2 linked regions of the Homo sapiens genome follow. The protein of the gene in region 2 purifies or fractionates together with the protein of the main gene of each other region. This does not show direct contact. Each region holds a gene or a part of one and is shown on either strand. Other genes may lie near its edges.

The links.
Region 1: the proteins of ANGPT2 (region 2) and ITGAV purify together in Homo sapiens (affinity purification with western blotting, with the first as the bait; one study listed by BioGRID). This does not show direct contact.

Annotation. Positions count from the first base shown.
Region 1 is NC_000002.12:186,596,296-186,600,331, reverse strand, and holds part of ITGAV (integrin alpha-V isoform 1 preproprotein), read right to left. Parts: intron 128-4,036; exon of another isoform or gene 1-127.
Region 2 is NC_000008.11:6,511,246-6,514,745, forward strand, and holds part of ANGPT2 (angiopoietin-2 isoform b precursor), read right to left. Parts: coding exon 3,432-3,500; intron 2,600-3,431; coding exon 2,433-2,599; intron 1,922-2,432; exon of another isoform or gene 732-1,921; coding exon of another isoform or gene 687-731; intron 1-686. UniProt on the Homo sapiens protein: Binds to TEK/TIE2, competing for the ANGPT1 binding site, and modulating ANGPT1 signaling. Can induce tyrosine phosphorylation of TEK/TIE2 in the absence of ANGPT1.

The sequences.
Region 1 (4,036 bases), on a different chromosome or scaffold from region 2:
TGTATTGAGGATGGAGGGGAGTGGGGGGTGGGGATGAGGGAAGTGGAATGAAGAGATGGAGGGAATATGTGAGGCAGAGGTAGAAAGACCCTGGCAAGAAAGAATTGAATCTCCAGGAGCTACAAAGAAAGGTATGGCTGAAGGAGGGGACAAGCCGGGAGTGGCACAAGATAAGGTCAAGGAGCCTGGCAATAACTAAGTCAAATAGGGCCTTTTGGCCATGGTTAAACTTTGTATTTTATCCCAAGGTTCATTTGAAGCCACTGAGTTTTTTAAGAAGAATGAAATCATCTACTAAAGAAAACTAAATGTTATGCCCTATGGGGAAAGCATTAAGGGAGAGGGAGAAAAAAATGGAACAAGGAAAGCAAAGGACTGGCCGCAGCTCAGGGAGCAGGTGAGTGTGATCTGCAGTAAGAGGGTGGGTGGAAAGATAGGTGACAGATGGAAAAAAACATCTGGAGTACAACAGCAATCGCTGGAGGCCTGAATATGAGAGAAAAGACATTCAAGAATGCCACCTAGATTTCCTTCTTGAGTGCATTGATGGGAGAAAAGCCTAGAGAGCAGAGAAGCAGAAGGCAGATTAAGTACTTACAGGAGTTCAAGACTAGCCTAGGCAACATAGTAAGACCCCCATCTCTACAAAGAATAAAACAATTCACTGGGTGTGGTGGCATGCGCCTGTGGTCCCAACTTTGGGGGTGGAGCTGGGGTCCTGAGACAGGAGGATGGCTTGAGCCCAGGAGGTTGAGGCTGCAGTGAGCTGTGATTACAAGTGCTACAAAGTAAGCAAACAGCCTGGGTGAAACAATGAGTCCCTGTCTCAAGAAATAAAATAAAATTAGTATTTACAGAAAAACCATGAATTCAATTATTAATATGTTTGTTTGAGATATCTGTGAGTCATCCAGTTGTAGTCTGAAGCCCTGCCTGAGACAGTATGCTGTATCAGAACACAGTTGGGGTTATTCAGCCAGGGGAAGCGTCGAAAGAGGAGGGGCAATGAGTGAGTTCTCAGGGACAACAACATTTAGGAGTCAAGAAGAGAAAGAAGATAAAGTAAAAAAGATTTTTGTCTTTAATCTCAAGAAACTGATTGAAATATAGGAGGAAATAAAGCAGGATACAGGCAGACAAAAACAGTCCTAAAATGCTATCACCATAATCATTTTGTTTCATTAAATACTAAGTCACTTAAATTATTCTGGCAAAGGAAACATTTACAATTGCTTTTCACCTTTTTGTGAAATTAGAACGAATGTACATCTTAAATATGGAATGCATTCACTTGAACTTTTAAAATCAATTTCTTATTCTGGGTAGTAGCTGCCAAATCTCATCTACAGTAGACAAAAGCTGGCTGTACGAATTGCAGGGTTACAAAGAATCCTGCTTTCTGACACTTATCTTAAAAATCCACAAATTCAAAATAAAGACGTAACTCCCAACCAAACCACGCCCTATTTAATAGAGCTCCATGCAGTCATATCTGGCATCAGTAAAACACCAATGTTGGCTCTCTCCCATCACGGCAAAATGATTCTGGGTAGAAAATGAACTTAGTTTTCATTCAGCAAAAGTCTTTCATAAGAAAAAAAGAGGTTGGGCACAGTGGCTCATGCCTGCAATCCCAACACTTTGGGCGGCTGAGGCAGACAGATCACTTGAGGTCAGGAGTTTGAGACCAACATGGCAAAACCCCATCTCTACTAAAAATATAAAAATTAGCCAGGCGTGGTGGCATGAGCCTGTAATCCCAGCTACTCGGGAGGCTGAGGCAGGAGAATCACTTGAACCTGGGAGGTGGAGATTGCAGTGAGCCAAGATTGCGCCACTGCAGTCCAGCCTGGGCAACAGAGGAAAACTCTGTCTCAAAAAAAAAAAAAAAAAAATGCTATGAGTAAGAGAGTCCCCACCTCCCATAACTAAGAGAGCAGCTCGTCATCAAAACCCCATCGGTTCTTTTTCTAGAGCAGAGTTGGTTAACACAGTGAAACTCTGTGTGTGTGTGTGTGTGTGTGTGTGTGTGTGTGTATAAATTATAATATGTAAATTTATTACATATACAATTTTTTTTCTACGGGTCTAAAATTTGACCCCAAAATCACACAACTACCCCTTTTCATCAGAATTAAATGATTTTTGAGTGCATACTAGAACAAAAGAACAGTTCAGGTAAGTTTGCTTTTGAGGGTCAATATCTTGAATAGTGCTTGCTTGGGACATTGCCACAGTAGTCCTAATGAGAGTAATACAAGCACAGGTATGTACACGTTCTTAGTGTTGTAGATCATACCAGGTTCTACATCAGGATAGGAGAACTGGTTCTCAAGCTTTGCCTGGAAACCTACAAGCAAAAATCACTTCTGGGTTGTCTTCAAATAGTAGCTCACAGCAGTGGTCCCCAACCTTTCCTTCCCTGGACATAGAGGGGGATGCTTTCGGGATGAAACTGTCCAACTCGGATCACCAGGTATTAGGTTCTCATAAGAAGCATGTAACCTAGATCCCTTGCATGCACACTTCACAGCAGGGTTCACACAATAGGGTTTGCTCCTATGAGAATCTAATGCCACCACTGATCTGACAGGAGGCAGAGCTCAGGTGGTAATGCTCACTCTCCTGCTGCTCACTTCCTGATGTGCAGCATGGTCCCTAACAGGCTATGGACTGGTACTGGTCCATGGCCCGAGGGTTGGGGACCCCTGTCTTACAATATATTTTATAACTTTTTGGTCAAAACTATTCTGCCTACCTTATGATAAATTGCTTCTTTGAATGTAGGGTACTCTAATTCATCTTTTGCACCTGCCACATTATAAGAACTCAAGAAAAGTTTAAATGGACAGTGGAGTAACAAAGTAAATTCAATAGCTATGTCTCAATCTTAAAGTAGCCATATATAAATAAGTCATTTCCACTACGTCTGAACCCCTCAAGAATGCAGAAAGCATCCTCTATTAAACATCCAATTATTTAAATTACCCTTAAAACAATTTCCTTGTGTAACATCTCTACTTAATTTTGGGTTTCAGATACTTTCTTTACTTGGCACTATAAGACAGAGAGAGCTCGGAAGTTATTAGGAGAAGGCCTTCAACAAAGACAGAGAAAAAGAGCCCAGTAGGAGCATTCTCTGAATGAAAACACCACTCTATTGGCAGCACATAGCATGAGTTCCTTGAATAATACCAGGAACAAGCCTGTTGCTTTTCATCAGGCTATCTGCACATTATAGGCATGAAATGATGGTAATCAGGTGTACAAATGGATGTTCATTAAGTTTTCCTAAGCATACCTTCATGTGCAGACTTGCATACTGGTGAAATGCTACAGAAATGGCAGAATAATATAAAAGGAATGTGTCAATATCTACATGCTAAATTTGTGAGGGAAAAAAGCTGATGAAGTTTTTCATCCAAAATGCCATCTCGATATTAAAGTTATCATTAAGATATTTAAGTTTTTTAAAGAGAACAATGAAGAGATAGAGAAAGTAAAATGACCTTAGACATATGTTAAAGTCTTACGAGGAAGCTGTGTAGTGAAAAAGAAATACTTGCATAGAAAACTGGGTACAAGGTGATAAAAGATGCTATATAAAAAAATTAAGGAATAAAAAGCAACACAGGCCAGGCACGGTGGCTCATGCCTGTAATCCTAGCACTTTGGGAGGCCAAGGCAGGAGGATCACTTAAGGTCAGGGGTTCAAAACCAGCCTGGCCAACATGGTGAAACCCCATCTCTACTAAAAATACAAAAGTTAGCCAGAAATTGCTTGAATCCAGGAGGCGAAGGTTGCAGCAAGCCAAGATTGTGCCACTGCACTCTAGCCTGGGCAACAGAGCAAGACTCCATCTCAAAAAAAAAAAAAAAGCAACACATACTACAAAAAACAAAGTTAATAAAACACTCCATAAAAATAATTGTTACTTGAATTTCATCTAAGAATGACTAATGAAAGTGTACAACAGCTTAATTAGGGTAAGAGAACTGACAGACCAGAAAAAAAATGTTTGTGATCTAAGCAGCA
Region 2 (3,500 bases):
GAATGGCCACGTTCTTGAAGTTGCTTTACATTGGTATGGGTTGATTTTTTTTTTTCAATCTCTGCAGCTTTGCCAGGGATGATTTTATATAACAGTGGAGTAAAGAGGTAACATCAACATTAACAATTAAACCTCAGTGTTATATAAAACTGCCAGAATGTGTGTGAAAAGTGATGAATTTTTAAGATTTAATGTACGCATAGCTTTTAGTTTCACTAGAAAGAATGAAATTCTATTGATGCATTTATGCATTTCTTATAACATGTATTTTCCAGTTTTCCAACACTTGGGGAACATTTCTTCTGGGAAAAAAAAATCCCTTACATGCTGCATACAACTGGCGTCTCAAAGCATTTGCAGTTATGAGAAGTTTCAGTCCCTTCACAGTTCTCTTATCATGCTAGCATCATGTTTTATTAGGATAATAATTTTCGATGTAATATCTATTTTATCTTGCCAAGCAAATTAAGCTTTAAACCAATGTGTGTGTTTTTCTAAATGGCCTATCCAAAAATTGATTGCATTTCTAAAGGAAATATCTGTTAAGAACCATCTCAGTTTAAAATATTTTTATAATGTCAGCGTACAAGGGTAATGACCCATTTTGTAAAAATCTTTTTATACAAACAGCCTAATCCTTAATTTTTGTGCTTCTTTTTTTTTTTTTTTTAATTCTTCTGTTGTAGATTCCTAACTGTTGCCAGTTGAAAAAATATTTAACTTGGAGGTAAAACACTGACCAACCACTTGTGTCTCAAAATTCATTGAAGTTTTGATCTCTTTGGAGTCAAGTTGGAACTGCTGTGAGGCCCAAACACCTATCTTCTCATTCATCTCGGTTGTTGCCTCTCCAGGAGAGCCTGATCTTTCCATAATGAGAATAGTGAATATGCTTCACTGATGTTTAAAGAGTCACATCCATGTATATCTGTTTCTCAAACATGCTTCTGAATTTTCATCCACTGTTTGTACAGCAGGACATACTGGGCATTGTAGAGTTTTCAGTTGGTTGTTCAGGCAACTTGACATTTAGCCGCTTCTCCGTGCTGCCCACCACAATCCTCCCCTGGGCAGCCTGCTCAAGGACTTTAACATTGTGTCTCCTTTCAGACTGTTCAGGTCGTGGAGCGGAGTGTCTGACTTGGGCATTAATGAGATGAAGACGAGACTGTAGGTCAGATGATGACTGTTTTTGTGATGTTCGTGTTGACCTTCATTTGCTAATTTCTGACCTCAAAGTGGGTATTTCATAATGTGTGCTCCATGATCACGAGGCGCCACCAGTCTGTGCTCTTTAGACTCCTTTAGGCTGGCGTTGGTGCCAGTGGGCACACAGTCTCACTTCTCTGCCCCTCCCGTTGCACACACATTTCGGAGTGCCTCTATGTGCCTTGTGTACCAGCATTACTGTGCATGTGGCTTCACCGTACTTATCTTGCACACTAGGTTGTCAAGTCCCATTGCTGTTCTCTCTCTCTACTCTCATGGCATTTTAGAGGCAGAAAGTAAATTCCCAGTCAAGGTTGCCCATGCTATTACTTATGATTATTGCTACCAAATGGGTGAGGACAAGGTAAACACCCAGGGAATGCTGTGAATCTGATGTATTTCCTGTAGAGGAGAGCAGAGTTGACTAACCATCCCACCTAACTCTGCCATCTCTAAACTTGACAACTAATCTTGACTTTGAGATTGAAGACAATTGAATGTGTTTAAACTTCATAAAGACAGACTAACTTTTGAAACCTTTTGGAATAAAACAGCACAGTCACAAGTATCCATCATTTATGCTATTCATGTGACATATTATCATGGGAACACTTACTATTCACTGATTTTACAAATACCTATGAAAGCCAATTATCTACCAGGCAGAGTTCTTCTAGGCTTTGAAGATACACAGTAAACACAATGGACAAAATACTGTTTGTATGAAGTTTCTTTTATATTGTTATAACCAAAGTTAGAATTTTAAACCCAGAGAAACTTAAAGAAGTAATAGTTTAGATCTTGGTTAAATCATTGTGTTTCTCATTTTCTGGAATAGTCACCCAGCAAACCTTTTAATTTTTTTTTTCTTTTTCTTTTTCTTTTTTTTTTTTTTTGAGACGGAGTCTTGCTCTGTCGCCCAGGTTGCAGTGCCGTGGCACGATCTCGGCTCACTGCAAGCTCCGCCTCCCGGGTTCACGCCATTCTTCTGCCTCAGCCTCCCGAGTAGCTGGGACTACAGGCGCCCACCACCACACCTGGCTAATTTTTTTGTACTTCTAGTAGAGACAGGGTTTCACTTTGTTTGCCAGGATGGTCTCAATCTCCTGACCTCGTGATCTGCCCACCTCGGCCTCCCAAAGTGCTGGGATTACAGGCGTGAGCCACCGTGCCCGGCCACAAATCTTTTAATTTTTTCTTTCAATTACCATGAACTCACTTACCTATAATTGAGTTCTTCACTTGAGAGATAGAAATGTTCATACAATGAGTAAGCCTCATTCCCTTCCCAGTCTTTAAGGTGTATTTTAAGCACATAGCGTTGCTGATTAGTCAGTTGCGAAACAAACTCATTTCCCAGCCAATATTCTCCTGAAGGGTTACCAAATCCCTGTAATGCAAGTTGTTAAATTCAATTATTTCATGTAATTTTTTCTTTGTATATTTGAAGTGGATAGTCCGTCAACTTAACATAGAATAACTATCAAATAGCAGAAATTCCTTCTGGTGCTGTGACAATTTAGGGTCCTTCCCAAAGGAAAATGGATTTTAAATAGGTCAGTTATTAGACACTAAGCTGCTGCTGGAAGAAAACTTGTATTAGGATAATGAGAACTACTTGGGGAGCCACCAGCAGAAGCCTTGGCATAAACAGCTCAGTTCATGGGAATGTGAAGCACCATTAAACAGTCGGCTTACCAAAAAAATGCTGAGTCCACCTTTAAAAATAAGCTAAGTAGTGGCAGCCTTGTTTATTTGAGAGTCTTACTCTGTTGCCCAGGCTGGAGTGCAGTGGTGTGATCTTGGCTGACTGCACCCTCTGCCTCCCAGGTTCAAGCGATTCTCCTGCCTCAGCCTCCTGAGTAGCTGGGATTACAGGTGTGCACCACCACACCTGGCTAATATTTGTATTTTTAGTAGATACAGAGTTTTGTTATGTTGGCCAACTGGTCTCAAACTCCTGACCTCAGGTAATCCATCTGCCTCGGCCTCCCAAAGTGCTGGGATTACAGGCGTGAGCCAGCACGTCTGGCTGCAGCTTTTGTTTTGATACAGTTTACCTTATATTGGCCATTCTTTAAAGGGGAGACTGAAGCACCAATTTTAAAAACCATGTCAAAAGTCATTGGTTAGTTTGGGATTGGTGGTTAAGGTTCCGCAGATCTTGAAAGCTATTTTTCACAAGGGAAATTCTTTTCTGATGCCTTAAAGAATGTCCTTACCACTTTATATTCTTTCCAAGTCCTCTGAAAATCAACGCTGCCATCCTCACGTCGCTGAATAATTGTCCA